Linked DNA regions of Homo sapiens: region 2 is linked to region 1. The links come from fine-mapping of genetic effects on gene expression. Tissue or cell type: atrial appendage. Region 1 holds a variant in brackets; the other region holds the start of a gene. All regions are shown on one strand. Distances are between the middles of the regions.

The links. PIP is the estimated chance that this variant, and not a neighbour inherited with it, causes the effect.
Region 2: it holds the start of ELOVL7, and the variant in region 1 is fine-mapped to the expression of ELOVL7 in atrial appendage (GTEx, PIP above 0.99).

Annotation. Positions count from the first base shown.
Region 1 is chr5:61,187,584-61,190,342 of GRCh38, forward strand. The region is part of intron 3 of SMIM15-AS1 (SMIM15 antisense RNA 1); the gene reads left to right. Among named protein-coding and RNA genes, the nearest start is that of SMIM15, 26 kb to the left of the region's middle. RefSeq lists an enhancer at 117-632. The variant A/G (reference allele first, on the strand shown) is at 1,250.
Region 2 is chr5:60,843,106-60,845,715 of GRCh38, forward strand. It overlaps ELOVL7 (ELOVL fatty acid elongase 7), which reads right to left and starts at 1,164. Exons shown (of 9, transcript NM_024930.3): 1 at 1,055-1,164. RefSeq lists silencers at 836-895, 906-1,065, 1,086-1,385.

The sequences.
Region 1 (2,759 bases):
TATTGGGAACTGGAGTAAAGGTCACTCATGCTATGCTTTAGCAAAGAGACTAGTGGCATTGTGCCCCTGCTCTAGAGATCTGTGAAACTTTGAACTTGGAAAGATTATTTAGGGTATCTGGTAGAAGAAATTTCTAAGCAGCAAAGCATTCAAGATGTGGCCTGGCTACTTCTAAAAGCTTGTGCTCATTTGCATAAACAAACAAATGACCTGAAACTCAAACTTATATTAAAAGGGGAAGCAGAGCATAAAAGTTTGGAAAATTTGCAGCCTGACCATGAGGTAGAAAAGAAAAATCCATTTTCTGGGGAGGAATTCAAGGCTGCAGAAATTTGCATAAGTAAAGAAGAGCTGAATGTTAATAGCCAAGACAATGGGGAAAATGCTTCCAGGGCATTTCAGAGACCTTCACAGCAGCCCTTCCCATCACAGGCCTGGAGGCTTAGGATGGAAAAATAGTTTCATGGGCCAGGTTGAAGGTCCCGTGCAGCCTTAAGACATGGTGCCCTGCATCCCAGATGCTTCAGCTCTAGCTTTGGCTAAAAGAAGTCAAGGTACAGCTCGGGCCATTGCTTCAGAGGGTGCAAGCCCAAGCCTTGGTGACTTCATGAGCCTGGGCCTGTGGGTGTGCAGAAGACAAGAGTTGAGGTTTGGGAGCCTCTGCCTAGATTTCAAGGGATGTATGGAAATGCCTGGATGCCCAGGCAGAAGTCTTGATATGGTTTGGCTCTGTGTCCCCACAAATCTCATCTCAAATTGTAATCCCCACGTGTTGAGGGAGGGAGGTGATTGCATTATGGAGGCAGTTTCCCTCATGCTATTCTCATGATAGTGAGGGATTCTCATGAGATCTGATGGTTTAAAAAGTGTGGCACGTCCTCACTTGGCACTTCTCTCTCCTGCTGCCATGTGAAGAAGGTCCTTGCTTCTCCACCTTCTATCATGATTGTAAGTTTCCTGAGCCCTCCCAGCCATATGGAACTGTGAGTCAATTCAACCTCTTTCCCTTATAAATTACCCAGTCTTGGATATTTCTTTATAGCAGTGTGAAAAATTGACTAATACAAGCCTGCTGGTATTACTCAATACAAGCAGCAGGGGTGGAGCCTTCATGGAGACCCTCTACTAGGGCAGTGCAGAGGGGTAAATGTGGCATTGGAGCCCTCACATAGAGTCCCCACTGGGACACTGCTTAGTGGAGCTGTGAGAAGGGGCCACCATCCTCCAGACCCCAGAATCAGATCCATCA[A/G]CAACTTGCACCATGCACCTGGAAAAGCCACAGGCATTCAATGCTGGTCAGTGAAAGCAGCCACAGGGACTGTACCCTGCAGATCCACAGGGGCAGAGCTACTCAACGCCTTGGGAGCCCACCCCTTGCATCAATGTAGCCTGGATGTGAGACATGGAGTCAAAGGAAATCATTTTGGAGCTTTAAGATTTAGTGACTGCCCTGCTGGATTTCAGACTTGCATGGGGCCTGTAGCCCCTTTGTTTTGGCCAATTTCTCCCTTTTGGAATGGGAGCATTTACCCAATGCTTGTCTCCCCAGGAATTAACTAACTTGCTTTTGATTTTATAGGCCGATAGGCAGAAGGAAGTTTCCTTCTCTCAGATGAAACTTTGGACTTGGACTTTTGAGTTAATGCTGGAATGAATTAAAACTTTGAGGGACTATTGGGTAGCCATGATTGTGTTTGGAAATGTGAGAAGGACATGAGATTTGGGAGAGGCCAGGGCAGAATGATATAGTTTGTCTCTGTGTCCCTACCCAAATCTCATGTTGAATTGTAATTCCCAGTGTTGGGGGAGGGATCTGGTGGGAGAGGATTGGATCATGGGGGCAGATTTCCCCCTTGCTGTTCTTATGATAGTGAATTCTCACAATATCTGATGGTTTAAAAGTGAGTGGCACTTCCCCCTTTGCTCTCTCTCTCCTGCTGCCATGTGAAAATGTGCTTGCTTTCTTTTTACCCTTCCACCATGATTGTAAGTTTCCTGAGGAAACTTGTACAGCCTGTGGAACTGAGTCAATGAAACCTCTTTTCTTTATAAATTACCCAGTCTCAGGTAGTCCTTTATAGCAGTGTGAGAATAGACTAATACACATGGACACCCTCCTCACTTTCTCCTCTCTTCCTGCCAACTGAGTCTGTGTTGTTCAATTTAAACTGTTTTATTCAATGTATCTGTACATAACTGGCAAATAATAAATATGTAATCAATGACTTAAAAACTACATTTTTAATGGACATGTTCTATATTGGACTTTGAAGAAGATATTATTGAACTACCTGAGTGTATACTCGAGCTCTGCTGTTGCCTAACTGTGCAGCCATGGAGAAATTAAATCAACTTTTTAATATTTCTGTGTCCTCATCTGTTAAGTGGGATGATAATATAAATAATTATAAGATAATATTAATGAAGATAGATTACACGTGATGCCTACTATGCACCAGGTGCCATACTAAGGACTTGACATATATTAGGTCATATAATCTCCAAAATGGTTTTTTGGAGGACATGCTATTATATTCATATTACAGAAGAGACAGTTGTCGTTTGATGTAGTGCCAGTATCTCATTTTTCAGATGAGGAAACAAAGCACAAAGAAATAATTTATTCAAGATCACATAACTAATAACTGGCATGGCTGTAATCCAGACACTATGCCTCCAGAAAACAATTCTGACACATATGAAAATTCCTAGTACAGTGCTTGCTACACAGTGGGTGCTAGTAAGTAATAATTATGTTA
Region 2 (2,610 bases), 340 kb before region 1:
AGCACAGGGTTAAGTGAACATGCTTTCCGAGGGGAGATCGTAGCAAGAGGGAAAAGACCACTGGCGAGGAACTCGGGTCGCTAAAACTGTTCTTCAGTCGACGCGGGACTAACTACACTGGGAGCAGGACAGGTGTAAAGACCCGCTCCTTCCCGTCCCGAGTTCCCCAGGGAGCTCCAAAGAGCGCTCTGTCCGCACCGGGTGAAGTTTGAAACAGCTCTGACTTGAAGGGGGAAAGCCCATTTCCCAACGAACCTGGGAAAGCCCATTTCCCAACGAACCTGGGAAAGCCCATTTCCCAAAGAACCAACGATACCTGGGACGACAAAACAACAGGCTTTCCTGTTTCCATCTCCGGCACGACCTGTTCCACGGCTCTGTATTCATCAGCCTCCTCCCGGCCAGCAGCAGCCACCAAGACAGGATGCGGCTCGGGGAGCCGAAGGGACAGCGCCCCAAGTTCATCTGGCCGCGGGAGCAAAAAAAGCGCCCAAAGGGGAAGGAAGGAAACAGAAAGAAAGGGGCTCCGGAATTTGGGGGGGTGGCTAGCGAGGCCAGACCCCGGAGCTGGGAAAATGACCTCCGCGTCCAAGGTCGAGCAGGTCCTTCTCCCTCCCAGTCCCGCCGGCGAGCACCTCTGCCCCTCCCGCTCCGCTCCGCAGGGCCAGCGCCGCGCGGGACCCCAGTCCAGGCTCCGCTCCGCAGCGCGCCCACCGGGCCCGACCTTCCCTTCGGGATGCTGCCGGGTGGGGGCTCCCGAGAAGGCGCAGGTGAGCGCCGCGGCCCCGCGCTCCGGCGAAAAGGGCCTCGGTCCTCCCCACGCGCAGGCAGCGGGGACAGAACTTCCCAAGCGCCTCCCGAGCCCAGGGAGGGCCTGGCCCCGCTCCCGGGGCCCCCGCACCCGGGTCCCACTTCTCGCGCGCCGCGCCCAAGTTCCTCCATCCGGCCACTCCCGACGCCGTTCCCCTCGGCTCTGCCTCCCTCCCCAGTCTCTTCTCCTCCGCGCGCCGGGAAAGTTTGGCCCCTGCCCGCCGGCCTGGAACCCCGCACTCACCGCACAGGGAGCGGAGCCGAAGCGCCGGGCGCGCGCGGGAGAGAGGGCGGCGACTGGCAGCGCGAGCGCGGAGCTCCTCACAGCGGCCCCCGCTGTCCCGGCCGCCGACTGGGTTGGAAAGGGGAGGAGGCCGCCGGGTGTCACCTGCCCGCTATCCCACCCAGCCGCGTGACGCGCGCAGCGCCGCCCCCTGCCCGCCGCCGCCAGGTGCCCGCCGAGGGCCGGAGGGAGGAGCCGGGGCGGCGCGAGGGGGAGCGGCCGGGAGGGCGGAGGCCGCCCCGGCCTCGCCTCCGCCGCGCGCCCTGACTCTCGGGACTGGGGCCCACCGGCCGCTCTGGGTTAGCGGGGCTGGTCGTGGCACCGATGACCTTTCTTTCCGAGAGCAGATGCCATCACTTGGGGGACATCTCCAGGCTGACATAGCAGAGTGGAAATTGTCGTCATGCGTGACTCATTTGGGAATGAGCAGTAGAAAAATCCGAAATGAGGAAAACCTAGCTGAGGCTGGAGGCGGAGAAAAAGGGGACTCCTTGCTTCTGAAAGGGTATTGGGAGGGTTAATTCGCATCTGAAATGGAAGCCAGACCAAGAGGAGAAGGCCCTGGGAGGGGAAGGCCGACTTGGTTCAGCTCCATCCCCTGCTTATAAGGAATAAGAAACTAGAGAATTGAGGCAGCCTGGGGGGCATGGGGAGAGGACTTTTAGAGCAATGAAGATTAGATTGTATATCATCTAACTTTGTTTCTGGTAACAGCAACTGCTGCAGGAAAAAAAGTCTAGAAAATTCATTTCTCGTTACCTACTGTTGGATTGGAAAGTGGGGGTGGGGATGAGCGTTCGGAGTGTGCACCTGCGCTTGGTTTATTTATTTTTTAAACGTACCTGGCCTTGTGTCTGGTAATGATCCTCCTAATCGCTGGTATGATTTGGATCATCAATAGCTGAAAGGCAAAATAGGGGCCTAGAGAAGTTCCCTGCTTCTGAGGCAAAACCAAAGGCTGGTGTTGAACTGTCCAGAAACCTAAAAAACAATAATCATTTTTAGTTGCAGTCCTGACCCAACCACCTCACAAATGTGGGCTTTGAGTTTGTATTGCGAGTTCTCAGCATGGAATCAAGAAACACAAAAAGGGGCTGGGAGCGTCAGGACCACCAGAGAGGATGGGTAGGGAGAAAAAAAAAATTGGGGTGTCGGAAGCATATTTTCCTCACATGTAGGGATTGCCTTCGGCAGCTTAATCCCACTACATTAAACAAGAGGTTTTAATGTTTTTATGTAAAACTTCGAAAGTGTCCATTGAAAGAAAAGCAAAAAAAAAAAAAAAAAAAAAAAAAAAAGCTTAAATTGCAAAGAATCTCGAAGTCAAAAAAACTAAAGATTTCTCCTTTCTTTTAGATAACTTTGCTTTCATATTAAAAACAGATCATTTAGTAGACTTAGGAAGTCTTTTGGGAACGGGAGACAATTGCCTAATGATACTAGCCTTTGAGTCTATCACAATTTACCATTTATATATACTTATGAAATTTCAAATATGCAGAAGCTCAAATGGATTC